7 linked regions of the Homo sapiens genome follow. The protein of the gene in region 2 purifies or fractionates together with the protein of the main gene of each other region. This does not show direct contact. Each region holds a gene or a part of one and is shown on either strand. Other genes may lie near its edges.

The links.
Region 1: the proteins of RBM47 (region 2) and MOV10 purify together in Homo sapiens (affinity purification with mass spectrometry; one large-scale study listed by BioGRID and IntAct). This does not show direct contact.
Region 3: the proteins of RBM47 (region 2) and PUM1 purify together in Homo sapiens (affinity purification with mass spectrometry; one large-scale study listed by BioGRID and IntAct). This does not show direct contact.
Region 4: the proteins of RBM47 (region 2) and PIK3C2A purify together in Homo sapiens (affinity purification with mass spectrometry; one large-scale study listed by BioGRID and IntAct). This does not show direct contact.
Region 5: the proteins of RBM47 (region 2) and TRUB2 purify together in Homo sapiens (affinity purification with mass spectrometry; one large-scale study listed by BioGRID and IntAct). This does not show direct contact.
Region 6: the proteins of RBM47 (region 2) and LARP1 purify together in Homo sapiens (affinity purification with mass spectrometry; one large-scale study listed by BioGRID and IntAct). This does not show direct contact.
Region 7: the proteins of RBM47 (region 2) and SYNJ1 purify together in Homo sapiens (affinity purification with mass spectrometry; one large-scale study listed by BioGRID and IntAct). This does not show direct contact.

Annotation. Positions count from the first base shown.
Region 1 is NC_000001.11:112,677,659-112,681,158, reverse strand, and holds part of MOV10 (helicase MOV-10), read right to left. Parts: intron 1-3,500.
Region 2 is NC_000004.12:40,426,934-40,431,401, reverse strand, and holds part of RBM47 (RNA-binding protein 47), read left to right. Parts: intron 1-3,819; exon of another isoform or gene 3,820-4,468. UniProt on the Homo sapiens protein: Single-stranded RNA-binding protein that functions in a variety of RNA processes, including alternative splicing, RNA stabilization, and RNA editing. Functions as an enzyme-substrate adapter for the cytidine deaminase APOBEC1.
Region 3 is NC_000001.11:30,930,653-30,934,476, reverse strand, and holds the end of PUM1 (pumilio homolog 1), read left to right. Parts: intron 1-1,134; coding exon 1,135-1,266; 3' UTR 1,267-2,971; downstream 2,972-3,824. UniProt on the Homo sapiens protein: Sequence-specific RNA-binding protein that acts as a post-transcriptional repressor by binding the 3'-UTR of mRNA targets.
Region 4 is NC_000011.10:17,116,835-17,121,302, reverse strand, and holds part of PIK3C2A (phosphatidylinositol 4-phosphate 3-kinase C2 domain-containing subunit alpha), read left to right. Parts: intron 1-1,328; coding exon 1,329-1,517; intron 1,518-1,989; coding exon 1,990-2,083; intron 2,084-2,563; coding exon 2,564-2,658; intron 2,659-3,631; coding exon 3,632-3,812; intron 3,813-4,468.
Region 5 is NC_000009.12:128,308,948-128,313,415, reverse strand, and holds part of TRUB2 (pseudouridylate synthase TRUB2, mitochondrial), read left to right. Parts: intron 1-1,814; coding exon 1,815-1,887; intron 1,888-2,392; coding exon 2,393-2,529; intron 2,530-3,540; coding exon 3,541-3,866; 3' UTR 3,867-4,468. UniProt on the Homo sapiens protein: Minor enzyme contributing to the isomerization of uridine to pseudouridine (pseudouridylation) of specific mitochondrial mRNAs (mt-mRNAs) such as COXI and COXIII mt-mRNAs.
Region 6 is NC_000005.10:154,796,385-154,800,852, reverse strand, and holds part of LARP1 (la-related protein 1), read right to left. Parts: intron 1,263-4,468; coding exon 1,094-1,262; intron 981-1,093; coding exon 811-980; intron 1-810. UniProt on the Homo sapiens protein: RNA-binding protein that regulates the translation of specific target mRNA species downstream of the mTORC1 complex, in function of growth signals and nutrient availability.
Region 7 is NC_000021.9:32,640,417-32,644,884, reverse strand, and holds part of SYNJ1 (synaptojanin-1), read left to right. Parts: intron 1-1,427; coding exon 1,428-1,475; intron 1,476-2,751; coding exon 2,752-2,790; intron 2,791-2,918; coding exon 2,919-2,989; intron 2,990-4,468. UniProt on the Homo sapiens protein: Phosphatase that acts on various phosphoinositides, including phosphatidylinositol 4-phosphate, phosphatidylinositol (4,5)-bisphosphate and phosphatidylinositol (3,4,5)-trisphosphate. Has a role in clathrin-mediated endocytosis.

The sequences.
Region 1 (3,500 bases), on a different chromosome or scaffold from region 2:
ATATCAAGAGGTACCTGAGTACAGGGCGGAATGTGGAAATGGAGGTTGGATGCCCATAAGGGGAGGGGTCCACAATAAAAATGATATGTGATAATGATCCCACGTGTGTAAACTTATGTAGGTGTGATATAAGCATGCCTGCAAAAAGAGATAAATGAACCGGGTGCAGTAGCTCACGCCTGTAATCCCAGCACTTTGGGAGGTCAAGGCAGGTGATCACCTGAGGTTAGGAATTCAAGACCAGCCTGACCAATATGGTGAAACCTCGTCTCTACTAAAAATACAAAAATTAGCCAGGCATGGTGGTTCACGCCTGTAATCCCACCTACGTGGGAGGCTGAGGCAGGAGAATTGCTTGAACCCGAGAGGTGGAGGTTGCAGTGTGCTGAGATCGTGCCACTGCACTCCAGCCTAAGTGACAGAGAGAGATTTAAAAAAAAAAAAAAAAAAAGAGATAAATGAAAAGGTGATCACCAAAAGTTTTTTTTTTTTTTTTTTTTTTTGAGACGGAGTCTCACTCTGTCGCCCAGGCTGGAGTGCAGTGGTACAATCTCGGCTCACTGCAAGCTCCGCCTCCCGGGTTCAGGCCATTCTCCTGCCTCAGCCTCCTGAGTAGCTGGGACTACAGGCGCCCGCCACCACGCCCAGCTAATTTTTTGTATTTTTAGTAGAGATGGGGTTTCACCGTGTTAGCCAGGATGGTCTCGATCTCCTGACCTCGTGATCCGCCCACCTCTGCCTCCCAAAGTGCTGGGATTACAGGCGTGAGCCACCGCGCCCGGCCCAAAAGTATTTTTAAAACATTTAAACAAGTATCTAACATAAAACATTAAAGCCCTTAATTCCCTTGCTTCCAACTACTTGCTTGATTAGGAGCAATTAATTAAACCCACTATTTGATGTATGTTTTTCCTGATTTTTTTCTATGCATATAAAACACAATAATGAGATGATACATGCTACACATACTATTCTGCAGCAGGCGTCTTCCCACCATGGATCTTCTCCCATAACAATGCTTTACAGAACCACCATGACCTTTTGAATGGCTACAAAAGATAGCATGTATGAATGCATCATGGTGTGTTTTTTTCTCTAGTGATAGACAAGCTGCCTGAAATTTCTGGCTACTCCTAATGTTACAATAACTATCCTTGCACACAAACCCTTGTACTTGTAGGCAAGTCTAATGGGATAAATTCCTTAAAGTACAACACCTGGGTCAAAGAGAATGAACCTTTACAACTTTGATAAGTTCTGCCAAATTGTCCTTTAAACAGGTTGTACAAATTTATGTTCTCACTAACAAGAGTTAGAAAATGCCCTTTTCCCAAAGCTCTAACATCAGAAATTTTCAATGTTTTAAATTTTTGACAATTTGATTACAAAAACTCCTATCTTTTTAAACTGTGCATTTCTCTGATCACCAATATAGTCAAGGATCTTTCCTTCTTTTATTAGTCATTTATATTTCTTCTGTGAGCTGCCTGATCATACCCCTTGCTCAATTTTCTAGGTTCCAGTTAACTGTTCTCCCTACCTCTGGCTTCATACCCCTACACTAGGCCACCCCCTATATCTGCAGAATTGTCATCAAACACAAATCTGATCTTGTTCCCTCAATTTACAACTCCATAGTCCACAAAATTAAGTCTTTAATATGGCACCTTCCAAGATCCTCCATAGTAACAACGATAATGCAAATACAATAACATCAACAGAAAACGTTTCCTGAATGCATTATCTCATTCAATCCTCAAAACAACCCTTTGAGGTAGTAATTATTATCATCCCATTTTAGAGAAAAAGAAATTGAGGTACACATCCTCAACCACACTTGGCCTCTTGTCAATCCATCCTTATTTCAGCCATTCCCAACTACTTGTATCACTGTGCCCCTCTGCAGACTTCTGTGCTGTGGACATCCTTAGCCTGCACTGCCCTGCCTTAGGCCGCCCCTGCTGTTTGTTGGGTGAACAATGGCTAATCTTTTTAGACCCAGTTCAGGAAAGGCCAAAAGCTAGAGGAATGGTATTTCAGCACATATGATCAGATTTGGAAGTGATCTTAAAGAGACATCTAGTTTCACAATCTATAGACTATGGATTCCAACTCCCATTAGCGGGTCAAAGCCAGGGTTTTTATAAAATTGAAATAAAATAGAATAAAAAATATCAGAGAGCAGGGAGTGAAACTATGTATTGTTTCAAGGGCAGGCATTGTTTTGTGAAGGTTGTGTATGCCAGGTCCCAAAGTAAAATGTGTTTTTTACTGTGGGTAGAGGTCCAACCACCAAGCCACTCTCCACGCCAGAAGCCAGAATGATCTTTCTAAATCTGATTACGTCAGACTCTTACTTTGAAATTTTCTGTGTTTTCCTATTTCCATTAAGATTAAAGACAAAACAAAACACCTCACAATGCCTACCCAGGGCCCTGCTGGTCTCCCGTTCTTCTGAGGTCATCCCAAGCCTTTGAAGGTGCTGTTCCTGCCTGTACACTCTACCCTTGCCCTTTACACCTTCTAAGTCCCATTAATCCTTCAAGATTCTACTCAAATATCACTTTCCCCAAGAAACCTCTGCCTAAGTTTCTTGATCTAGTCTAGGTTGCTAGACTAGGACAGATCTCCAAATTATATACTCTCAATGCATACTGGACTTTTCTGTACAAGCACTCATCACAACCGTAATTAAATAATTATCTAACTGCTGCCTCCTTCCTTAGTTAGTTGGGTTCCTTTTGTATATTTCTAGCAACTCACTTTTGCTTTGCCATTCATAGGAAGCACTCAGCCAGTACTTGTAGAAGAATGAGTCTCCTGTCCAAAGCAAGAATCATCTTCTCTCAGAAACCTTTTCGTGACATCAGTCCTTACCCCATACAATGGACTCCTAATCATCATCGCACTAATGAGGGGTACCACTTAACAAAGCCAGTGTAATATGCTAGCCACACAAATGCTTTGCCTAGGACAACTCATTTTGGTCTCTCACAACCCCGAGAGAAAGGTACTATTTTACATACTCTTACAGTTGGGGAAATGGAAAATTTAGAGAGTTGTTCAAAGTTAAATGCAACCACTAAATGGCAGGGCTATCTAAACACCATTACTAGCACCTATACTACTGTATTGCATTTGTTTGTCTACACATATCTGCTGCTCTTTACTAGATTATATTCTTTGGAGGCAAGGACCAAGGCACAGGCACACAGTAGAGCCTCATTAACTATATTTGCTAAATGAATAAAGGTAGGTGGGAAAAGGCAAGAGTTCAGAGCAGAGCACTTTATAACATCATAAAATAACCTAGCTGGAGAGACCTATCCCCTCTCAGTGTAGGAATCTCCTAGAATTCCTAAAGAGTGTGACTTGCTATACCCCCCGCTATATGGCCCATTCTCTTGTTAGTTAACTCTAGTTGCTAGTTCACTTAGATTCTGCAAGCATTTATTGAGCATCTACTACATACAAAGCTCTATGCTGGGGACTGCAGACAG
Region 2 (4,468 bases):
CAGGCGTGAGCCACCGCGCCCGGCCATGAAATTTTCTCTCTTGTACTCCTGATTACTACATCATTACTTGGCCTATGGCTGCCAGTGTGTTCTATCTCCCAAGGAAAATGAAGCTCCTACAGACCAAAGACTGTGTCCTGTTTCTTTGTATCTTCACCTTATAGGACATAGGGAGGACATCCATTTAACAGAAGAAAATCTTGTTAAAGCTGTTTTCTGTGAGGCAGTGAATCATGAATACCGATCACAAGTACTCAGGCCCAGGATCCCTTATCCAATTGAAAAAGAATTATCCAGGCCACTTTTTTTGATTTTTGATTTTTGATTTTTTTGAGACAGTCTCACTCTGTCACCCAGGCTGGAGTGCATGGCTCACTGCAACCTCAACCTCCCTGGTTCAAGCAATCCTCCCACCTCAGCCTCCCAAGTAGTTGGGACCACAAACACGCACCACCATGCCCGGCTAACTTTTTTATTTGTAGGGACAAAGTCTTGCTATGTTGCCCAAGCTGGTATTGAACTCCTGGGCTCAAGCGATCCTCCCACCTCAAGCTCCCCAAGTGCTGGGATTACAGGCATGAGCCGTTGCCTACATTTTTTAAAAAACAGAGATTCTTAGACTCTAATCCCTGAAGATTCCAATTCGGTCAAACTGGGCTGGAGTCCTAGAATTGATATTTTGCACAGCTCCTCAATGATTCTGAAACAGAGCCAGGCCTGTGACCCTCCACAGTAGGATGCTGTTTACTTGCTTTTGCCCACTCTGAACACTAGTCTTGACTGCATTATTCAGAAAGGGCAGACTAATTGAAGCTTATTTATCTTTCAGTATGTCATTAAGTATTCTTTAACTTGGGATCTCTGAAAGACAAAAAGAGGAATTGGTTGTAAATGACACTGTAGAATAACAACTAAGTATAGTTATAATACTTGTGGACTGACGGTAAATATTTACTATAGCGTAGCAGCAGTACTTAGTGGAATTCTGATAATAATTTCTAATTCTCCTTTAGTAAGAAATTCATGAACACTTGTCTTTCATGTGCACTGTGAGTTCTGGTCAGGTCCAAATTCCAGGCACCATAATCATGTCCTGACTATTTCTGTCTCCTATCAGTCCGCACTGGCTGTTGCCATCAGGGTTTTTTTTTTGTTTGTTTTTGTCTTTTTTTGTTTGTTTGTTTGTTTGTTTGTTTGTTTGTTTTTTGCGACGGTGTCTCGCTCTGTCGCCCAGGCTGGAGTGTAGTGGCGTGATCTCGGCTTACTGCAACCTCCGCCTCCCAGGTTCAGGCGATTCTCCGGCCTCAGCCTCCTGAGTAGCTAGGACTACAGGCACGTGCCACCATGCCTGGCTAATTTTTTGTATTTTTTTAGTGGAGACGGGGTTTCACCTGTTAGCCAGGATGGTCTTGATCTCCTGACTTCATGATCCGCCCTCCTCAGCCTCCCAAAGTGCTGGGATTACAGGCGTGAGCCACCGCGCCCGGCCACCATCAGGGTTCTTATTTGCAGTCTTTGCTTATCCTCCCCTACCTTCGATCATCCTCCCCTACCTTGTAGGCGCTCAGGGGTGTTCCTATTTAGCCAATTTAACAACACCTCTTGGTATAGTTAGAGCAAGGATAACTGCTCCTCCTTGACAGGAGGGAAGACTGCAGGGACTCTTCACCTGAATTAGAGGCACTTTTTTTTTTTTTTTTTTTTTTTTTTTTTGAGATGGAGTCTCACTTTGTCACCCAAGCTGGAGTGCAGTGGCGGGATCTCAGCTCACTGCAACTTCCGCTTCCAGGGTTCAAGCGATTCTCCTGCTAGAGGCACTTTTTAGGGATGGGTAAATGTTTCTCCCACTACCATCATTGCATTTTTCTTTATTCCTGCTCTTTGATGATGCTGTATTAATGCAATTGTATACTGGTCCCCCCTTATCCTTGGGGGATACATTCCAAGACCCCCAGTGGATGCCTGAAACACAGATATTACCAAACTAATAATATACTATGAACGAATTTTTTTTTCCTTCTTCACAATTTCACAGATAGAAAATTTCTTTCTTACTGTAGTTCTTAGCAACCTCAGCATAGGATTTTTTTTCTTTCCTTATTAAGTAGAGAACTTTCCCCTTTTCATTTACAGGAAGGCCTTTAGTGCTCCTCGTTGGCATATCCAAATTGCCAGCATTACTACTCTTGCACTTTGGGGCTGATATTAAGTAAAATAAGGGTTCCTTGACGGTCAATCTGATAACCCAGATGGCTATTAAGTGACATGGGCATGGAGCACAGACAGTGTCGTTTTCCTGGACAAAGGGATGATTGGTGTCCCGGGCAGGATGGAGAGGGATGACATGAGATTTCATGGAGCTACTCAGAAGGGTGCACAATTTAAAACTTATGAGTTATTCATTTCTGAAATTTTCAGTTTAATATTTTCAGACTTCAGTTGACCGCGGGTAACTGAAACCATGGAAAGCAAAACCAAGTGCTTCCCCATATATTCTCATTTTACAGATAAGAAAATTAAGGCCCAGCAAGGAGACAGAATTGCTGGCCGGGAGTAGAATTGGGATTGGGAGATCAGATGCCTGATCTCTGCATGCTTTGTCCTTATAGTGTGGTGAATGCTATCATAAAAGGGACATCACATGAATGAAAAGAGAAGCCATGGGTTTGGGGACCTACTCTTGATTCCAGGCCGTAAGCCAGTGCATGTCTATGTGCAAAACTTGGTGTTGGAGTGGGCAGCCTGAACCCAGGTGTTGGGCCGTCCTGTAGCACATGGAAAGGTCTCTCTCACATGTTGCCTTCCCTGCCATTTCCTCTCCCTTTTTGCACTGGTTATTAAACCTACGTCCACACATGTGGAAAAGGTGACTTGTGTCTTGCTGTGAACCACAGTCTTTCCAGTTCTGGAGCTCCTCTCCCTGGTTGTAAAATGTCACTGATGAGACACTCATTGTTTAGGGTTGTAAGAAGCAAGTTAACGTAAGGCTAAAAGTGCAGGCTCCAGAGTCACACATTGCATTGCTTAAAAGCTGTGTCACTTTGTGCAGGTCATTTAACACTTCCACACAACTCCATATAATCATAGTACCAACTCTACTGGTGGCTGTGATGATTCAATACTGTCATACAAATAAGGCACTTAGAATAGTGCCTGAGTTTGGGGGTTTGTTTTGTTTTGTTTTGTTTTGTTTTGTTTTGTTTTGTTTGAGACAAGGTCTCACTTCCATTGCCCAGGCTGGAGTGCAGTGGTATGATCCCAGCTCACTGCAGCTTTGAATTCCCAGGCTCAGGTGATCCTTGCACCTCAGCCTCTTGAGTAGCTGGAACTACAGGAGTACGCACCGCCATGGCTGGCTAAGTTTTGTATCTTTTGCAGAGACAAGGTTTCGCCATGTTGCCCAGGCTGGTCTCGAACTCCTGGCCTCAAGCCATCCTCCTACCTCAACCTCCCAAAGTGCTAGGATTACAGGCATGAGCCACCTCACCCAGCCTCTGAGTTATTAATTGTTATAATTATCATTATAATTATAAATTAAAATTATTATAAATTATAATTACTATTTGATTATAGTTTTAAAAAGTAATCTTAGGCTAGAAGTTCCTAAGTTCCTTTGAGCACAATTTTGGAACTCTGATTTGCAAATTTTGTAACAGAAATTAGAGCTAATTCCTTTATAAAAATCCAGGAAGAAATAATTATTTTAATTCACCATTTCACATATGCTGAATTGTTTATTTTGAAGATGTATTAACATATAGGGAGACCATACCAGCATTTACTACCAGGCATTCTATGGCTCATGAGGTGCACCAAATATTTTGTTAAATGAATGTTTTATTTTATTCAGAATCTCTTTTCAATGAAGCATCTCACAGAACTAGTTCCATGGCAAACACTTTGGGAAATACTGAACCACAGTCTTCCCATTCATACTCCTGTTTGTTCTGAAAACATCTTATGTTGCACTTTCAAGTAGACAGAAGGAAGTAGCAGGGGCTTTTCTAGAGCCAGTGGTGGCCGTCAACAGTTCAGGCAACTTTACTTAGCTTGTCCTTGCCCACTTCTTCCTCATTTGGAAACTGCTCTTTATCCTTCAAAACTCAGCTCGAATATCCCCGCTGCTGAGACATTTTCTCCAACTTCCCCATTAGTTGGTTCTTTCTCTAAGCTTCTACAACAATTTGTATACATTAATGGTGTCATCTCTTAGGTGGGAGGTGATGGAAACCATCACATTGGCTGAAAATTGTGTATGGTCACAATTTTTTAAGGTCACAGCTTAAGAAGCTGTCCCTTTGGAGATCAGTATATTTGGTTTCTCTAAGTTGACACAGTCTGTTCCTCTCTCTGTCTCTGAGACAGATCATATTCCATCAGTTAAGTATGAGTTGAGGCAGCTGGCATGTATCTAGAGGCCATGTTTAAGGAAAAACACTGATTTTTAATTACTGTGAAATCAATTGTG
Region 3 (3,824 bases), on a different chromosome or scaffold from region 2:
TTCTAGACCGGATCAACCCTTCCTTGCTTTGAGGACACAGCTAAACAGACAAAAATTGGTGCCCTCATGGAGCTCTCAACCTGGAGAGCCTCTGTCTACTGCGGTACATTTATCCAGTGCGTTTATGTATGCAGGTGCAGGTTTGGATGGGGAATCTGATGAATAAACTGTGGTCCTTTACTGTTTATATGGAAAGATTGATAATTAAGCAAAAGATAGCAGACACAGCTGAGGTATGTAGAATGCTCCCTGAGCTCACAGAAAAGAAAAGGGGCTTCCAGAGAAGAAGCACCTCTCAAGTTTTCTGGAATGTAGGACTTCTTGAAATGATCAGCCCAGGGAAGGAAGAACAGAAAGGAATGCTTGGAGAAGTGACTCAGAGCATAGGTCGGAGAGCCTGAGGGATGAGGCTGGTGTGGCGGGCGTGCCTTGAGAGCACAGTGGGGAGAAACCTGATTCGTGGAGGAGCCACACAGTTTGGGCTCAGCTATCTGTGCTGTCCTTTGTTAGCCATTCAACCTTGGCTGAGTGACTTAACTACTCTGTGCCTTCATGTTTTCTGTCAGTAAGATGGGGATAATCACACCAGCTCATGATGTTCATCATTTCTCTTCTTGTCATTGATTAGCTTTCTGTGATCCACTGTGACCTGGAGAGACAGGGTCAAGTGGTGAGCTCAGGATTCTGGTGACCCGAAATAACCCCCACTGCTCAGGAGAGCCTGGATGCCGTGCATGGGGCCAGAGGGGCCTGTGCTCATGCTTGCAGGGAAGCACTGTGCAGCTGGCGGGTAGTGGGCAGTGTATTTTCCCAGCTAGGATGCACTTTCTCCATGTGTTGTCCTGGGAGTGGCCCATGGCCACCCAGCCTCCAGGGTCCTCAGGCCCTGTGGCACCACTCAGGGTAGGAGCTCCTCTCCTCATCTGATGGGTTGCCAAAGTGCTAGAAGTCAGGGGACTGGGCTGAGCCAGTGAAAGGTATTGCTGTAGGGGTGTGTGTGTGTGTGTGTGTGTGTGTGTGTGTGTGTGTGTGTGTGTATGTGTGTGTGATGCATGACATGCAAATGCATGTCCGGGAAGCCTGCCCCCAAGTCTCATCTCAGGCCATGTAACACAGACTGTCTTTCCTCCCCAGATCCGGCCCCACATCGCAACTCTTCGTAAGTACACCTATGGCAAGCACATTCTGGCCAAGCTGGAGAAGTACTACATGAAGAACGGTGTTGACTTAGGGCCCATCTGTGGCCCCCCTAATGGTATCATCTGAGGCAGTGTCACCCGCTGTTCCCTCATTCCCGCTGACCTCACTGGCCCACTGGCAAATCCAACCAGCAACCAGAAATGTTCTAGTGTAGAGTCTGAGACGGGCAAGTGGTTGCTCCAGGATTACTCCCTCCTCCAAAAAAGGAATCAAATCCACGAGTGGAAAAGCCTTTGTAAATTTAATTTTATTACACATAACATGTACTATTTTTTTTAATTGACTAATTGCCCTGCTGTTTTACTGGTGTATAGGATACTTGTACATAGGTAACCAATGTACATGGGAGGCCACATATTTTGTTCACTGTTGTATCTATATTTCACATGTGGAAACTTTCAGGGTGGTTGGTTTAACAAAAAAAAAAAGCTTTAAAAAAAAAAGAAAAAAAGGAAAAGGTTTTTAGCTCATTTGCCTGGCCGGCAAGTTTTGCAAATAGCTCTTCCCCACCTCCTCATTTTAGTAAAAAACAAACAAAAACAAAAAAACCTGAGAAGTTTGAATTGTAGTTAAATGACCCCAAACTGGCATTTAACACTGTTTATAAAAAATATATATATATATATATATATATATAATGAAAAAGGTTTCAGAGTTGCTAAAGCTTCAGTTTGTGACATTAAGTTTATGAAATTCTAAAAAATGCCTTTTTTGGAGACTATATTATGCTGAAGAAGGCTGTTCGTGAGGAGGAGATGCGAGCACCCAGAACGTCTTTTGAGGCTGGGCGGGTGTGATTGTTTACTGCCTACTGGATTTTTTTCTATTAACATTGAAAGGTAAAATCTGATTATTTAGCATGAGAAAAAAAAATCCAACTCTGCTTTTGGTCTTGCTTCTATAAATATATAGTGTATACTTGGTGTAGACTTTGCATATATACAAATTTGTAGTATTTTCTTGTTTTGATGTCTAATCTGTATCTATAATGTACCCTAGTAGTCGAACATACTTTTGATTGTACAATTGTACATTTGTATACCTGTAATGTAAATGTGGAGAAGTTTGAATCAACATAAACACGTTTTTTGGTAAGAAAAGAGAATTAGCCAGCCCTGTGCATTCAGTGTATATTCTCACCTTTTATGGTCGTAGCATATAGTGTTGTATATTGTAAATTGTAATTTCAACCAGAAGTAAATTTTTTTCTTTTGAAGGAATAAATGTTCTTTATACAGCCTAGTTAATGTTTAAAAAGAAAAAAATAGCTTGGTTTTATTTGTCATCTAGTCTCAAGTATAGCGAGATTCTTTCTAAATGTTATTCAAGATTGAGTTCTCACTAGTGTTTTTTTAATCCTAAAAAAGTAATGTTTTGATTTTGTGACAGTCAAAAGGACGTGCAAAAGTCTAGCCTTGCCCGAGCTTTCCTTACAATCAGAGCCCCTCTCACCTTGTAAAGTGTGAATCGCCCTTCCCTTTTGTACAGAAGATGAACTGTATTTTGCATTTTGTCTACTTGTAAGTGAATGTAACATACTGTCAATTTTCCTTGTTTGAATATAGAATTGTAACACTACACGGTGTACATTTCCAGAGCCTTGTGTATATTTCCAATGAACTTTTTTGCAAGCACACTTGTAACCATATGTGTATAATTAACAAACCTGTGTATGCTTATGCCTGGGCAACTATTTTTTGTAACTCTTGTGTAGATTGTCTCTAAACAATGTGTGATCTTTATTTTGAAAAATACAGAACTTTGGAATCTGGGTTTGTGCTTTATTTTAACCTCTCCCCCCACCCCACCCCCAGTGTAGTTCCCCAGGACAGCCCTTTCCTGCTCATGCTTCTTTCTGCTTGTTTTGTTGTTTTGTGAGGGTGGGAGGAGAGGTGCCAAACTAATGGCTCTTTGAGCCCAATTTAAACCAAAGATGTTTGGTTCAGCCTGCCCAGTGCATTCAGAATCAAGATACTGCACATACAAATCCAGATTTCCAACTCTGCACATCAGAATATTCTCCTTGGGCCCCTGAGATGAGCTGTCTGGGTTACAGCACCGTCTGTCTGGGCCTCTCCTCCTCCGCGTTTCCTCTGTTTGGGCTGCTCCATTTGCTCCCTGCCAACCTGTGCCCACTACTGAGGCCTGCCAAGCAGTCCAATGTCTGAGCATGCTCATCTCTTCAGACTGGGGAGCCTCTTTTAGCTTGTAACACAGGAGGCTGGAGCTCACAATTGTGCCCGTGGCCCTAGCCTGAGGATGCCATCTGCCCTTCTTCACCGACTTTGCTCCAGGGGCAGATTTGGTAAGTGTTGGCAGTTACAGGCTGGGTCCAGCCAGAGAGGCCAGGTGGAAGCCCACACCAGCTGGTGTCTGGAAGTGGAGCGTCAGGATGGTTGAAGGAACTTCACATGGGCCCCTCAAGGGGAAGGGCTAATCACTAACAGGCCCTGGGAATAGGGGGAGAAGAAAAGGAAGCTGAGGGGATGCAGGTTTCCAGTCCAGCATGTGATTTTGCCTCAGCAGCTGTCGTTGGGGCCCTTTCCCAGCATTCCCCACTGCAGTAGCCATCATGGCGCTTGCAGAGGTGGCATGCTGCGGGCATTGGGAACTGCAGTCCATGC
Region 4 (4,468 bases), on a different chromosome or scaffold from region 2:
TCTACAAAAAAATTAAAAGTAGCCAGGCACAGTGTTGTGCATCTGTAGTCCTAGCGACTCAGGAGGCTGAGGTGGGAGAATTGCTTGAGCCCAGGAGGTCAAGGCTGCAGTGATCTATGATCTCATCACTGCACTGCAGCCTGGGCAACAGAGCAATACCCTGTCTCAAAAAAGAAAAGAAAAGAAAAGAAAAGAAAAATTGATTGGAAATGTCCATCAATAGGGATTAAATTAAGGTACATTTATCTGGTAGAGAACCATGTAACTATTAAAAATGAGATTGTAGGCTGAACGTGGTGGCTCACACCTGTAATCTCAGCACTTTGGGAGGCTGAGATGGTGGCACATGCCTGTAATCCCAGCTACTTGGGAGGCTGAGGCAGGAGAATCGCTTGAACCTGGGAGGCGGAGGTTGCAGTGAGCCAAGATCGTGCCACTGCATTCCAGCCTGGGTGACAGAGCGAGACTCCATCTCAAACAAAAATAAAATAAATAAAAATGAGATTATAGCTGTATGTACTAATTTTTAAAATAGGTTAGCTGAAGAAAACCAGGAGTAGAATAGTGTATATAGTGTATTACCACGAAAATAAAGGAAAAAAGAGGATCTACATATATCCGTGTGTGTGCCTCTGTATGAATAAACTCTCTAGAAGAGCATACAAGCTTAGGTGGTTGCCTCTTAGAAGGGGAATTAGAAGGAGAGAGATTTCACTGTATACCTTTTGCAGTGTTTGAATTTTTTCATTACTCCACATGAAATGAATAAATTTCAGTGCATGTATATGTATATATATATTTATATATATATGGATGGATAGTAAAATGGTGAAATATTTCATTCACGTAAACATTTGTGATTAAGCTTAAAACAATTAGGATCTTCAAAACAAGTCCTTTTCATTTGAACTGTATAAATATGTTCCAAAATTTTATAGTAGTATTTTTTTTTTCATAGCATTTGATTTTATTTGTACGAAATGGATGAAATCCTTGCTATCTCTTAGGGTGGGATCTGCTTTTTCAACTCTGATTTCTAGTGCCTGGCATCTAGTTAGAGCTCAATAAATTTTTATTATACTGAATTATCCTTCATTTTCCTAACTAAGCATCTTTTATCAAGACATAATCATTCCTTTCAGTTCCCGGATTAGCATTAATTACTGGCATTTGCCATACATTGCATTTTTCTATTCCAAATTAGTATTAATGATTTTATGAAGAAGTAGCTGTCCCAAATAAATAAATTTCTTCTTTGTATTTTTAATCATTGAGATTATATCATTATGTTATCACTGAGAAGTAATTTAATTCTATTATATATGCAGACTTTCTAAAGAAGATAAAGCTTTTTTATGGGAGAAACGTTATTATTGCTTCAAACACCCAAATTGTCTTCCTAAAATATTAGCAAGCGCCCCAAACTGGAAATGGGTTAATCTTGCCAAAACTTACTCATTGCTTCACCAGTGGCCTGCATTGTACCCACTAATTGCATTGGAACTTCTTGATTCAAAGTAAGTCAAATACATTTATTTGCTCTTGTTTTATTGTCAGTTTTTCCAGTAAGGTATGTTGCCAGAAGTATTTCCTTTCCTTTTAACATGAAAGCAATTCAATATAATCCAAATGTGTAAATGTATATTTATACAAACATATCTTCTGCATTGAAGTTGTCAATAAAGCATTGCATGTCCTTTAAAACTAGCCTAAAGGAAGGGTTAGGTTGTAAATTTTGAATAATTTATATTTTTATGATGTGGGCCAGAATTAATTTTCATAAACTTAAGATTCCTAAATAATCCCTAAATTGAATCTGTATAGCACAATAAGATTGTCTTCTTACAAAAAGAAGAAATACATTGCTTTTGAATAAAAGAGATATCTTAGTGTTCTTTGTCAGGACCAGATTGAGATTGTGTTTTCAAAAAATACAGCTTCACTGGAAAGAAATCACTGTCCAATCTTGGTTTTATGGTAATCTTCTAGATTTGCTGATCAGGAAGTAAGATCCCTAGCTGTGACCTGGATTGAGGCCATTAGTGATGATGAGCTAACAGATCTTCTTCCACAGTTTGTACAAGTGAGTTTTTTACTAGATTACCTCCCTTTATACTTTCACTCTAGTTTTTTATGGGAACTTGCTAAGGGATCCCCATTCTGTTTAGATTAAAAGTCGTTTTTTAGTGTGGGAACATTGAGGGGCATTGCATTTGGATTTAGTGTGAATTTTTTCCCCACTATTGTCATCTGCCCCATTTGAATATTGTATATAGGCACCTGTATTTTTAGTTTTCAGACTTTTTAGAACAAACCAGACTTGAGCTTTTCCTTGATTTTTCTTTACTGGTGAGTTCAACATAGCTAATGAATGTTACTCTATACTTTTGTGTTTGATTTAAATTAGTTTGGCATAGGTTAATTCATCTATTTAATTTTTATAAGTATCATCTTTCATCAGTAAGAGTAATACTTGCTTTATATAGTTTCTCTTTTGATAGTTTTATTGGAACAATTTAGTATGGGTTAGACCACTAATAATTCTTATTTTCTTTTACTGTAGGCTTTGAAATATGAAATTTACTTGAATAGTTCATTAGTGCAATTCCTTTTGTCCAGGGCATTGGGAAATATCCAGATAGCACACAATTTATATTGGTAAGATTTAAATTTTATTGATTACCGTATTTCCATTCCTAGAATTTATAGAAATGGCATACCCTGTAAGTCTAAATGGTATGCCACACTACTTATTGTGGATACAAGATATTTTATTGAAGGTATTATTTTAAAGGAGCTAAATTTACCCTCTAATGCAAAAATTTGAAAACCCTCATTGCAAAAATTTGGTGTCTTATAGCTCTGTAATAATGAATGGGTTTCGACTTGCTTATATAGCTTAAAATACATTTCTGGTTATCAAAAATTGAGGCCAAGCGTGGTGGCTCATGCTTGTAATCCCAGCACTTTGGGAGGCTGAAGCTAGTGGATCGCTTGATCTCAGGAGTTTAAGACCAGCCTAACAATCATGGTGAAACCTCATCTCTACCAAAAATATAAAAAATTAGCCGAACATGGTGGCATGTGCCTGTGGTCCCAGCTAGTTGGGATGCTGAGGTGGGAGGATTGCTCGAGCCTGGGAGGTGGAGGTTGCAGTGAGGCAAGGTCATGCCACTGGACTCCAGCCTGGGCAACAGAGCCAGACCTGGTCTCAAAAAAAAAAAAAGAAAAAAAAATTGAACTTGTTATTTTTCAGAGAGGTTCACCTAGTTCTTAGAAGTGACTAACATGGCCGGGCATGGTGGCTCACGCCTGTAATCCCAGCACTTTGGGAGGCCGAAGTGGGCGGATCACAAGGTCAGGAGATCGAGACCATCCTGGCTAACACAGTGAAACCCCATCTCTACTAAAAATACAAAAAATTAGCCGGGTGTGGTGGCGGGCGCCTATAGTCCCAGCTATTCGGGAGGCTGAGGCAGGAGAATGGCGTGAACCCGGGAGGCAGAGCTTGCAGTGAGCCGAGATGGCGCCACTGCACTCCAGCCTGGGTGACGAGTGAGGCTCCGTCTCAAAAAAAAAAAAAAAAAAAAAAAACCAAGACGTGACTAACATAAATATTTTGCTGTATTAGGCTTCTCAAAGATGCCCTGCATGATGTACAGTTTAGTACCCGATACGAACATGTTTTGGGTGCTCTCCTGTCAGTAGGAGGAAAACGACTTAGAGAAGAACTTCTAAAACAGACGAAACTTGTACAGCTTTTAGGAGGAGTAGCAGAAAAAGTAAGGCAGGCTAGTGGATCAGCCAGACAGGTATGTACCCATAAAAGGTAATATAAATGTGTTAATGTTAAAGGAAGGATCTTTATGGTGCTGACTAATTAAGTTGCTATTCTTTATTGGTAGACTCCCAGTAGAACTCTAACTATACCCATGCTATTTGGGGCAGATAAATTCAAAGATTGTTTAAAATATATAGGAACATATTTCACAACCTATTAAAATCAGTGATTTTCCCATGCTTATTTATTTCCATGCTTATTTATTCCTTTCTGATGAAAATTGTTTTCTTGAATTCCTTTACCTCCACTATCAAAGTCCACAGTATTTTCATCACACCAAAAAGAAAGCATGTCCCCATTTTCCCCTCCCAGCCACTAAACTGTTTTCTGTCAATATGGATACGTCTATACTTCTATATGGATATTCTGGACACTTCATGGACTTTTCTGTCTAGTTTCTTTCACTTAGCATAAAGTTTTCAGAGTTCATCTGTGTTCTAGCATGTGTACTACATGCCATTTTTGGTTGAATAATATTCCATTGTGTGGATATACCACATTTGGTTTAAACATTCATCAGTTGGTGGACATTTGGGTTGTTTCCACTTTTTGACTATTAATAATAATACTGCTGGCCAGGCGTGGTGGCTCATGCCTGTAATCCCAGCACTTTGGGAGGCCCAGGCG
Region 5 (4,468 bases), on a different chromosome or scaffold from region 2:
TACAGGCGCCCGCCACCACGCCCGGCTTTTTTTTTTTTGTATTTTTAGTAGAGATGGGAGACGGGGTTTCACCATGTTAGCCAAGATGGTCTGGATCTCCTGACCTCATGATCCGCCCTCCTTGGCCTCCCAAAGTGCTGGGATTACAGGCATGAGCCACCGCGCCCAGCCTTTCCTTTTCTTTTCTTTTTTTTTTTTTGAAACGATGTCTCGCTCTGTCGCCCAGGCTGGAGTGCAGTGGCGCGATCTTGGCTTACTGCAACCTCCACCTCCCAGGTTCAAGCAATTCTCCTGCCTCAGCCTTCGGAGTAGCTGAGATTACAGGTGCACACCACCACACCCAGCTAATGTTTTGTATTTTTAGTAGAAATTGGGTTTCACCCTGTTGGCCAGTCTGGTCTGGAACTCCTGACCTCAGGTATTCTGCCCACCTCGGCCTCCCAAAGTGCTGGGATTACAGGTGTGAGTCACCACGCCTGGCTACTGTTCTAAATTTTAAAAAGAGGCCGGGCGCAGTGGCTCACGCCTGTAATCCCAGCACTTTGGGAGGTCGAGATGGGTGGATCACAAGGTCAGGAGTTTGAGACCAGCCTGGCTGATATGGTAAAACCCGTCTCTAGTAAAAATACAAAAATTAGCCGGGCGTGGTGGCAGGCACCTGTAGTCCCAGCTACTCAGGAGGCTGAGGCAGGAGAATCGCTTGAACCTGGGAGGCGGAGGTTGCAGTGAGCTGAGATTGCACCACTGCACTCCAGCCTGGCAACAAAGCGAGACTCCGTCTCAAAAAAAAAAAAAAAAAATAATAATAATACAAAAAATTAGCCGGGCATGGTAGTGCACGCCTATAATCCCAGGTACTCGGGAGGCTGAGGCAGGAGAATCGTTTGAACCTAGGAGGTGAAGTTTGCAGTTTGCTGAGATCTCACCACTGCACTCCAGCCTGGGCAACAGAGCGAGATTCCATCTCAAAAAAAAAAAGGCCAGGTTCGGTGGCTCACGCCTGTAATCCCAGCACTTTGGGAGGCCAAGGCAGGTGGATTGCCTGATGTCAGGAGTTCGAGACCAGCCTGGCCAACATGGTGAAACCCCGTCTCTACTAAAAATACAAAAACTAGCCGGGTGTCTTGGCGTGTACCTTTAATCCTAGCTTTTCAGGAGGCTGAGGCAGGAGAATTGCTTGACTCCAGGAGGCGGAGCTTGTAGTGAGCTGAGATTGTGCCATTTGCACTCCAGCCTGGGCAACAGAACAAGACTCCGTCTCAAAAAAAAAAAAAAAAAAAAGTCTGGGTGCAGTGGCTCACACCTGTAATCTCAGCACTTTGGGAGGCCGAGGCGGGCGGATCACGAGGTCAGGAGATCGAGACCATCCTGGCTAACACGGTGAAACCCCCTTGCTACTAAAAATTTAAAAAATTAGCCGGACGTGGTGGTGGGCGCCTGTAGTCCCAGCTACTCGAGAGGCTGAGGCAGGAGAATGGCATGAACCTGGGAGGCGGAGCTTGCAGTGAGCCAAGATTGCGCCACTGCACTCCAGTCTGGGTGACAGAGCGAGACTCCGTCTCAAAAAAAAAAAAAAAAAAAAAATAGAGTGCCCTTGCTGCTGAGTCATGTGTATCTTTCTGAGATCCAGTATCTTTCTGAGGTCCAGTGCTTTCATGAGAATCTCAAAGGACTCCCAACCACCCCGCCATGGGGATCCCTCCAAAACATCCTCTCTCCATGTTCCAGGGATGGGGCTGGCCTGGGGGGAAGGAGTTTGCTGTGACCAATACTCAGCAGGTACCTGTACATTGACAACCCCCTGCCTTTTCCAGACCACGTGACCAGAGAGAAGCTGGACCGCATTCTGGCCGTTATCCAAGGCTCCCATCAGAAGGCCCTGGTGATGTGAGTAGGGCCCTCAGGGAGGTACTGGGAGAGCAGTAAGTGCCCTTGGCTCCCGTAGGCTCCCCCAAACCTGGGGCAGATTCCATGGATCTTGTTTTTAGAGCCCAGAACCAGACGGGAGCTACCTGTTTCTTTCTTGGCATTAAGAAATGGTTCTGTGTGCCAGGTCTTGGGTTGGCCAACGGGAGGCCAAGAAGAGCAAGAGAACCAAGCTGTCCTGCTGAGAGTATATGATCTAATGGCAAGGAAACCAGGGACCACATCATTGGAGCACAGAGCCCAAGGGCAAGAGCAGCCAAGGAGTTAAGAGCTTGGGCTCTGGAGCCAGCTTGCCTGGGTTTCCTGACTCTACCAGGCACCTGGTGATGAAGGAGGGCAGGAAAGGTGGCTGGAGGAGCCACGGTGGCAGGGCACACAAAGCAAGTGAGGAGCTTCCAGAGAGGCACCTCATGTGGGGGAAAGGGTAGGTGGGCCACCCAGCTGCAGCCCCCTTCCTGATCTGCAGGTACTCCAACCTCGACCTGAAGACCCAGGAGGCCTATGAGATGGCCGTGAGAGGCCTGATCCGGCCCATGAACAAGTCCCCGATGCTGATAACTGGCATCCGATGCCTCTACTTTGCACCTCCGGAATTCCTCTTAGGTAGGTTGGCCAAGGAAGTTGGAGCAGTGAGATGGGACCCGTAGGTTTGGGAGTCACTCAGGAACGCTCTTGCAGAGGTCACTGTTGTCTGGCTCAGCTGAGGCCAGCACACGCCGGCCCTGATCTCTGCGGGCCAAGGCATCAGGTGCCGACTTCCTTCCCAGCCCTGGCCTGGACTTGGCTGATGACAGAGCTCGCAGAACAAAAGCTCTCCTATCTCTTGCCAAGTCACCCTTGGAAGCCAGACCTTACCAAGCAAAGGTTATATTTAGTGGCTTATTTCCAGAGCTGCCCATGTTTGAAGCTGTGAGGGCTCCATCAGACACAACTCTTACGTCCCCAGTCCCACCCAGCTCAGGCCCCTCTTATCTGTGTTCCTTTTGTCTCTGCCTGCGCCCGCCCCTTTTTTCTGTTGGTCATGTTAATGCCTGCTCCTCTGCTTGAGCACAGAACTCTGTTATTAAGATAACATCTTAATAACATTTTAAAGATAATCATTTATCTTTCTATAAATGATTTCTTTTACTCCTCATAACTCCCATTTTACAGATAGGGAAACCGAGTCTTAGTAAAAGGCAGGTTCTAACCTGGGCAAGATGGCGAGACCCTGTCTCTACAAAAAATAAAAAATTAGCCAGTTGTGATGGCTCAGAACGTCCCAGCTACTCCGGAGGCTGAGGCAGGTGGATCATGTGAGCCTAGGAGGTCAAGGCTGCAGTGATCTGTTATCACACCACTGCACTCCAGCCTGGGTGATGGAATGAGACCCTGTTGCCAAAAAAGGGCAGATTCTGACTTGGCAGGTCCCGGTGGGGCCTGAGGTTCTGCAAGTCTTAACACATTTCAGGTGGCACCCACAGGGCAGGTCCTCTGAATAGCACAACCTGGAGAGCTTAGGGGTCTTGCTAAGGTTGTTACACACCTAGGAGGTATCCAAGGGGTGTGCGTTCACAACCACACACTAGAGGCTGTGCTCTCACCACCATGTCTGTCATTGTGTGTCCCTGGCAGAGGTGCAGTGCATGCATGAGACGCAGAAAGAGCTGCGGAAGTTGGTTCATGAAATCGGCCTGGAACTAAAGACCACTGCTGTCTGCACCCAAGTGCGGCGCACGCGCGACGGCTTCTTCACGCTAGACAGTGCCCTCCTGAGGACCCAGTGGGACCTAACCAACATCCAGGATGCTATCCGGGCTGCTACCCCTCAGGTAGCTGCAGAGCTGGAGAAGAGCTTGAGCCCGGGGCTGGACACCAAGCAGCTCCCCAGTCCGGGATGGTCCTGGGACTCCCAGGGCCCGAGCTCTACCTTGGGGCTGGAGAGGGGTGCGGGGCAGTGAATGCCCAGGCAGCTCCTGGGGCAGTGGATGGATAAATAGAAGAACTGCTATGAGCTGGACCTGATAGCTGTGCAGAAAGTGAGAGCAGGGGCACCTTTTCTACGTAAGACACAAAACTCAAGCTGTAACAGAAAGGTCAATGGACTTGACCCAACTGAGAAGGAAAAACTTCTGTATGGAGGAAAAGACAGTAAACATGACAGACTGATAGAAAGTATTGGCAGACCAGGCGTGGTGGCGGGCACTTGTAATCCCAGCTACTCCCAAGGCTGAGGCAGGAGAATTGCTTGAGCCCAGGAGTTTAAGGTTGTAGTGCGCTAGACGGCGCCTGTGAATAGCCACTGCACTCTAGTCTGGGGAACATATGAGACCCCTGCCATCTCAAAAAAAAAAAAATTCTCAATAAACTATGTGCCCACGAAAATTAAAAATTAAAAAAAATTGTAAGTATTTGCAGTGTCATTAACCAAGGACTAATATCCATAGTATACAGAGAGCCCTTAGAAAGCAATAAGAAGACAACGACAAAATTAGGCAAATGAGATGAAGTGTGTATCAGAAGAAATCCAAATGGCTAGTAAGCCAGAAATGACACTCAACCT
Region 6 (4,468 bases), on a different chromosome or scaffold from region 2:
GAGAAAGGAGATGAGAGGTAATCACTGTGGGAAAATAGATAAGGGAGTATAGAATTCCATAGACCCAAAGTTCAAGGTCAATTCTGCAGTCTCCTCACAAGCCCCAGGCCAGAGGTCTCCAAAGTGGGTGACAGTGAGCAGGTATGTGGAGAAAAATTCAGCACTTAAAAAGGAAGTAGTAATTTTAGTTAGAGATTGCAATACTTCTTTAACAGTGAACTTCATCTGTTTATATATATAAACTATTTCTAGAATATTCTAATGTCTCCTTCCTTTCATCTGCAGATGGAGAAACTGAAGCCTTGAGGTATGAACAGGCTTCCCAAGGTCACCTTGCCATTAGTGCAGCAGACTTGTGTAGACTAACTCCATATTTGGGCCATGCATCTGCTCCCTCTCCCTTCCTTCTTCTGAGGACCTAAGGGGCTTACATACATGATAGTGGGGACATACTCAGGGAAAAGACACCAAAAACGCAGCCCCAGAAATTTAGATGGAGCAAAAAGAAGAGCCAAGAATCAAGAAGCCAGAAACATCGCTGCCAGATGCTGCATGATCCCTTAAGAAAAATGTCACCGAGGAACTCACACAGTAGGGCGCCCTAAAGGGTGGTTCCCCACAGGAAATGGAAACAAGCCAAATCAACCTTTCTGTAGCCACTACTGGTAACTTCAACTCACACTATGATCCTGAACTACCCAGATTTCCTGCTGGCCCCTCAGAGCTAGAGTGCTGTGCCCATGTGTTATCCCCTTCAAGCACCCTAGCTCAGAGTGCTAGAACCAAGGCAAGGGACAAGGCCTCACCCACCTTGGGCCGTGCTGGGGATGGCCGAGGCCTCTTCTTCACTTCAATCCAGTTCTCAGAATCCAGGTCAGGCAGGCTGGCAGACAGGCCCTTGGGTAGTGTCTTTAGGTTGCTGACCTCCTCTGTTTTGGTTGGCACTGGGGTGACTGCACGAGGAGAGCCAGGTGCCGACTCTAAAGGGTGGAAAGGGGAAGTCCTCATCCCTCCAGTCCTCCTCCTGATGCCAGCCCTGAGGAGGACTGTTGCCCAGAGGACAAGGGCAATCTTCATGCCAGCAGGTACCTACCTGTCTCCTTTTGGTAGTGCTGACGGGGAACAAATTCAGGGCAGTTGAGAAGCTGGGAGAAATCAGTCTGTGAATAATCCACTATTGGGGGAAGAGGCCACTTTTCTGGTTCCTCCCTCCTACGAACTTTCTCATCAACGATCTCCACCACCTTGCTGTCCTTTAGGGCCTGAAGGGGAGGAGAAGGAAGAGGGGATTAAGAAGAAAATCTTGGACAGAAAGATCTTGGAAATGGTAGACAACTGGGTTCCCCTGAGCTTGGTATGAGTCCAATGCTACCAGTAATATAAGAAAATTGACACCATCTTCCACGACTGGTAGATAATGTGAGATGTTCAAACTTGTAGGAGGTACCAGCATAATAAATACACCTACCCTTTTACTCTTTGAGCCTGCAATCCTACTTCCAGTAATCTGCTCTAGAGAACACTTGCACAAACAGGGAGCAGTATGTATAATATCTGGACAAAAAGCCATTCACAGTAAAACTAGAGTAGAAAAAGAACTATAAAATACCTAACTTGCCATCGCATAGGCAATTTAAATATTTACAGCATATGCATGATGGAACACTACTCAGACATTAAAAAACTTTACAGGTCGGGCCTGGTGGCTCACGTCTATAATCCTAGCACTTTGGGAGCCCCAGGCAGGCAGATCACAAGGTCAAGAGATTGAGACCATCCTGGCCAACATGGTGAAACCCCATCTCTACTAAAAATACAAAAATTAGCTGGTTGTGGTGGCACACGCCTATAGTCCCAGCTATTCGAGAGGTTAAGCAGGAGAATCGCTTGAACCCAGGAGGTGGAGGTTGTGGTGAGCCGAGATGGTGCCACTGCACTCCAGCCTGGGCGACAGGGCGAGACTCCGTCTCAAACAAACAAACAAACAAACAAACAAAAAAACAACCAACTTTACATGTGCTGAGGTGGATAAACCCACAAAATATTAATCAAAAAAGCAGGCTGGGTACAGTGGCTCACACCTGTAATCCCAACATTTTGGGAGGTCAAGGTGGGTAGATCGCTTGAGCAAAGGAGTTCAAGACCAGCCTGAGCAAAATAGCGAGACTCTATCACTACAAATCGTAAAAAGGTGGCGCTGGCATACATCTGTGGTCCCAGCTACTTGGGAGCCTAGATGGTTGAGGTTGCAGTGAGCTTTGATAACACCACTGTACTAACTCCAGCCTGGGCAAAAGAGCAAGACCTAGTCTCAAAAAAACAACCAAAACATCCATCTATAGGAGCAGCAGTTGAAAAAACATGGAGCATTCCACACAATGGTGAACTATGCAACTGTACACAGGAATGAGGAATATCTTTCTATTATATACTGCTACTTTGCAGTTAGCTCCCAGATATATTAAGTTAAAACAAAAAAGAATTGAAGAAATGCCATGTGTTGTATATTTCCATTTACCAAGGATACAAATACATGTAGAGGCATTTGCTTTTTTCTTAAATGGAAAGGTTCTAAAAAGTTTGCCTGTAAGAGAAGAAAGGGTGTAAGTGACAGAATTTAAGTCAGACTTCTATGACTATACCATGCTGAGACTCTAGAACCACGTAAATGTTTTACACAAATGTAAAACAACTTAGAAAATTATAGGGGTAGGGAGAAAGCAATCTCTAAAACTTGGAAGCAAAATAAAACTAATATATATATCAATTTAAATGTGAAACCACACAAAGATTCTTTCAAATGACTTGAAGATACTGTATAAGTGGAAAAACTGTTTTCAGTGGTAGTGGAGGTATTGTAAGAATGTAGAGCTTGGCACAATGGCTCACGCCTGTAATCCCAACACTTTGGAAGCCGAAGTGAGAGGATGGCTCAAGCCCAGGAATTTCAGACCAGCCTGGGCAACACTGCAAGACCTCATCTCTACAAAAAATTTAAAAATTAGCCACACGTGGTGTGCACCTGTAATCCTGCTACTCAGGAGGCTGAGGCAAGAGGATTGCCTGATTTCAGGCGGTTGAGGCTGCAGTAAGCCATGATCACACCACTGCAATCTAGCCTGTGAGAGCAAGACCCTCTCTCTTTAAAAAATGTTTAAAAAAAAAAAAAAAAGACGGTAGACATACTGTGAAATAAAACAAAATGAGTAATTATGTTGGTATCATTAGGAATTAAGATTATGGGCATGGAAGAAAGCAGTAGGTAAAATAAAAGATCCACAAGTCTACGTAAAGACCCTTTAATAGAAAATACCAGAACAGGCCGGGCGCGGTAGCTCATGCCTGTAATCCCACCACTTTGGGAGGCCGAGGTGGGTGGATCACCTGAGGTCAGGAGTTCGAGACCAACCTGGCCAACATGGTGAAACCCCATCTCTACTAGAAATACAAAATTAGCTGGGTGTGGTGGTGCATGCCTGTAATACCAGCTACTTGGAAGGCTGAGGCAGGAGAATTGCTTAAACCTGGGAGGTGGAGGTTGCAGTGAGCTGAGACCATGCCACTGCACTCCAGCCTGGGCAACAAGAGTGAAACTCTGTCTCAAAAAAAAAAAAAAAAAAAAAAAAAAAAACAACAACAACAAAACAGAATAACTCCATGATGTATTTTATCTCACCAAAAAACAAAAAAATCATCTAGAAAGAATGACCAACCAAGTAGCAATAAAGCACCCCTATAACTCAGACTGGTATCTAAATACCATTTCCCAAAAGAAAGGAACTAGAATTCCTTTTAAAAGTGGCCAATTCCAGATCTGGGGCAGGAAATGTATAGGGTCCCACTGACCAAAGGTGGGACAATTTGATCCAATCCATTAACTGCAATGGACCAAAATAAATACGTTTGAGCCCATAAGCTTATAATAACAAATGATACGAAAACAAACCACCAAATCTCACTGGTCACCTATGAAACCTATTAGAGATCAACTCATAATTATGCAAACTGGCTAACAAAGGGAGGAAGATCAAACATTAATCTGCCCTTCCTGAACAAACTATACCTCTTGGTAACTGAACAGTTGATGAGGCAAAGTTACTTCTTGAAGAGGTATTCCACCTAATAAATGAAGACCGACTGACAGAATTAGTATATTGTCATTTTGCAATCCTAACGAACACTGCTGGCAGCTTATAGCACAAGAGAGACAATCAAATGAAATGTTATGTGCCACCTGAGAGAAAATACATCATTATGATAAAGTATTCTTGACAAGGAGGGGAAAAAACTTCAAAACCTGAATCTGATCAGGCCTCTAGATCACAATTTACAAAAAACTTGGAGTACAGATGAACATGTTAAAATGACATCCCTGTGCCCTGTGGAAAATCCTACAGGATGTACAACTTAGTCTATTCAAATAATAAACGGCAAAGAAAAAGAAAAATAGAGGCAAGAGGAGACTTAA
Region 7 (4,468 bases), on a different chromosome or scaffold from region 2:
AAAGTCAAAATGAATGACATTCTAGTTTAAAACTAATCCACAAATAAAACTAATAAAGGCTTTCATTTCCCAGGTAGGCTGGGATTGTTCATCAGGCCTAATTTTTTTTTTAATAAATGTGGTCGATTCATTTACAAAGATTTAATACCCAAAAGTTATATTAATTTTAAAAGTCATTCAGGTACAGTAAATACAGAACATTTCCCAAGTATCTGATTAGTGATACATTTATTTTCTAGTGGAAAAGCTTTTGGATTAGCAAAGAACTGTATGATTTTCTTTTCCTTTCTTCATAAGGAAATTTTTATTCACAAAGGGTCACTTTTTGTTTGAAGTATAGTTTATTTGGTTTACATGAAAACTCACAGAGCTCAGTTGGAGTTATACATTTGACAAGTTTATTTAATCTAAATCTCAAGAAAAGATGAGATGAGTTTTCACAATTCCTCAGAAGAACTTTTACAAATCCAGTGTTACTAAGGCTCACTGTGCATGTGTAGCCTGGTCTGTTTCTATTGTAGCTTGCCTAGTGACATGGCTGAGCAATTCAGGTCTTACTACAGACTGACTTTGCCTGTGTGTAGATCTTAATGACTGCGTGTGATAAGAATAGCTAAATTATTTCAGCATTACAGCTTCTGCCGAATACAGCTAAGTGATCATTTCTCCATTGACCTACAGAAAACATTTAATTTTTCCCTTTTCAAGCTCCTGCTTTTATAGAAAACATTTAATTTTTCCCTTTTCAAGCTCCTGCTTTTATTTAAATTTCCATGATAATTTTTGCTTATCTTCTGCTTTAATTAGGAAAACATCCTGTAGAAAATAAATTTAAAATGAATCTGTCAAAAGTTAGGCAAGCCAGTGGATTACAGTGAAATCTGTCTTAATTTTAAAAATTGCTCCCCTTCATAATTCTTTTGTAAGTAGTGTTTGCAACATGTTTTTTCATCCTATAAACAATAATTCCTTTACGTCATTATAGTACATTAGAGTTTTTAAAATTAATGCATCAAAAACTAACTTCAAAAGACTTACGTAGTCTCATAGAAATTTATGATTTCTTTCCTTTTGACTATCAAATATCAGAGTTTTTACTTGCTCTGGATATAAGGAGTAAGATGATTTTTAAAGCAAAGGTCTTCATTAAACATATTTTTTAAATTCCCTACTGGTAGTAATTGCATACATAAAAAGAAAACTGTCATCCTGTTTCTACTCTTCTGTTTGAGTAAAGGGAGGATTCAGATTTGGGCCAAGCATCTAAAGTCACTTTGGTTTGTATTGATATCTTTGAAGAAATTTAAAGCAATAAAAGAGCCTTTTTGCAAAAGTGAGTTTACTATGGAAATTGTCTTGTGTGCCTGCCTTTCATTCTGTGCTGTGGGCCCTGAACAATATATAGTTTCTGTTCTTTCTCTAAAAAGGTATTGGAGCCCCTCCCAGTCCTGGGGTAGCTAGGAGAGAGATGGAAGGTAACAAGACTCTTGCATTATAGAAGTGGTTCTCTCATTTTATTTCTCAGTGTCAGCGCCCCACCTCCCCACCCCGCAGTGTTTGCAGGCATACTAAATCTTTTCTTGGTCCAGCTGTAAACTTCTCTTTCCCCTCCTTATGTATACCTTGTATTTTTTCCTCTCTTCATTCTATGTCACCTATAGTTTCTAATGGATATCCATTTAATTTCCCTGAGATCCTTAATGTTGTTTGTACTCTGTTTCATATATAGTTTATATATGCCCAGGTTGTGAAATTACTGTTTAAGAATGTCTTCAAAATTCTTTTCAGAATAAGTAAAATATTTAGAAATGTACTTTACTAATCTGAAGTTTTAAAAATTAATGATTATAATTAAACCCTATTAATTCAGATCCAAGAATATAGTATTTTGTAGTTGATTTCAGATAACATAGCTATTTTATAGATTAGCACTGAGCCAGATTTGTTTAAAAGACCTTTAAGACTAGAGGCCATTTGTTATGATTTTAGTTATTAAAAGGCTGATGTATTTCTTATAACAATTGTACTTGAATTTCTTTACAAAAAGGAGAGTTTATTTAAGATGCTGCCCTTGATAGTCACTCCTACTCCTTTTGGCTCCAAGAGTAATTTATTTCATTTTATCCTTCAGCTACCTTTCTAATGAGTTTGAACATATTTTTAACACTGTCTTCCATAAGGCAGATATTTGGTAATAACATATGCCTGTCTTCTGTCTTAATGATGGGATTTTGTTATAGAAATCCGAAAGATCTCATCATAAGATAACCTTATCCACAGTGACATCTACAGCGTGAAGCCCTAAAGTATTGCTACTAGGAGCCTCTTGTGTAATTTGACAAATGCAGTCCTGTCTGTTGCTCAGAAGCCACTTGTCTGCCAGACTCTAAGGGGCAGCAGTGCCGCATCTTGTGACCATTCACACAGCTGACTGTATGTTTTCAAGGTTCACGAGAGAGTTCTATGGGGAATGCCACCCTAAAAGTGGTCCCATGAGTGAGATATCAAACTAAAGTCACCACTTGTCTCCCATAAAGGTCTATCTAAATATTGTAATTTTTCTCTCTTTTGGAGTATTTCATTCAGGACTGATAATACCCTTCATCATTATACAAAGCAAAGTGCTTTGTTTTGTTACCATCTCATGCCCCCATTTCTGCTGGTAATGAAGCAGAACAGCAAGCTGATGTTATGCAATATTGCTTAATTGTTAACTTACAACTAATTTTTTTTTCCCTTCTTGCTTCAAAGCACCCAAAAGCCCTGGAACAACAAGGAAAGATAATATAGGTAAAAACACTTGAATGTAGCTATTCACCCTTAAAACTGGACCGTGAAATAGACACTTGGAATATAAGTACATGGTTTCTTGTTTATTTTTTTAAACTTAAATATATGATATGATGTCTTTGTTCCAGGACGCAGTCAGCCTTCACCTCAAGCAGGACTTGCAGGCCCAGGACCTGCTGGATACAGTACAGCCAGACCGGTAGGTAAAACCTCGCCTGGGGCCAAGGGGTCTCGGTTCTAAGTCCTGTTTACTACTAGTCAGTTTTGTTACCTTGGAGAAATCATGTGACCCTTCAAGGCCTCAATTTCCTCATCTCTAAAATGAGGGAATTGCACTTGATGATCTTCCGACTCTAACATTATTTTAACATACTCTTCAAAAATAACAAACTTCATTATTTGGATAAAAGTGATACACTTAAAACAATTATGGTCACTAAATAAATATCTTAAGAGTCTCAGTATATGAGGAAATGATGGATTTGGGCAGCTTTTTATCATTTTACCTGAGTAATTAATGAAGATATAAAGTAATCCTTCATTAAAAAGGATTTTAATTACATTTCAGAAAAAAAAATGATAAATTCAGTATAGTAAAACTGGTTCTAAAGGTTTTTTTCTCTTTTTGGTTTTTTTCTTGATCAGGTTCATCATATTCCGTAAAGGTATTAGAAATAGGAGAGTAGATGTTGTTACAGGATTTTTCCCTACCTGATGAATGTGTCTTTTCTGTATGTTTATATGTTCTCTTATACACATAGGTTTTTTATTATTTGAAAACTTTCTCTGGACTATAACAGGTAATCAAGAACAGAGAGAAAGAGCAAATAGAAACCAGTAATCAGTGACTTAGGCTAGTCCAGTAGGAGCTGGGACTACTGAGAGGCCCATATCTGAAGAGTAGGAAACTGAGAGCTATTACTGTACCTAGAAATTAAGATTATTAAGATTGTGAGAACTGAGGAAACCACTTCCTATGAAGATAGAAGCTTTTTGTCTTTTCTGTTGTAGCTGTCCACTTAACAATCTGAAGGTTCTTTTTTATATGTAATATTACTCTTCAAATATTTATCCTCCTTTTTTCAAAAAAAGGGAAATTTGCCATTCACTGATCCCATGACCACACTTGGCACAAGAACTTTCTTGATTCTGTTGAATACCATAAGTATAGGAAAAGAAAGTCAGGATTTTTGTGAGTTTAAAAGTTCATATTTTGCTTAAAATAAATATTGTTAGCTTAGATCCTTCAGCAAACATATGAAAATAGAAAAAATATTTTTCACTGATGAGTCTTTCAGTGTATTTAATTCGGAATATTGAGTTAGTCATTCAAAAGTTGTACTTCTGTGTTTAAAAGCAATATATATGGCTGGGTGGCAGTGGCATGCACCTGTAGTCCCAGCTACGCAGGGGACTACATTGGAAAGATCGCTTGAACCCAGGAGTTCAAGTCTAGCTGGAGCAACATAGCAAGACCCCATCTCTTAAAAAACAAATCTTGACCAGGTACGGTGGCTCACGCCTGTGGTCCCAGCACTTTGGGAGGCCGAGGCGGGTGGATCATGATGTCAGGAGATCGAGACCATCCTGGCCAACATGGTGAAACCCCATCTGTACTAAAAATACAAAAAATTAGCCGCGTGTGGTGGCGGGCGCCTGTAGTCCCAGCTACTCGGAA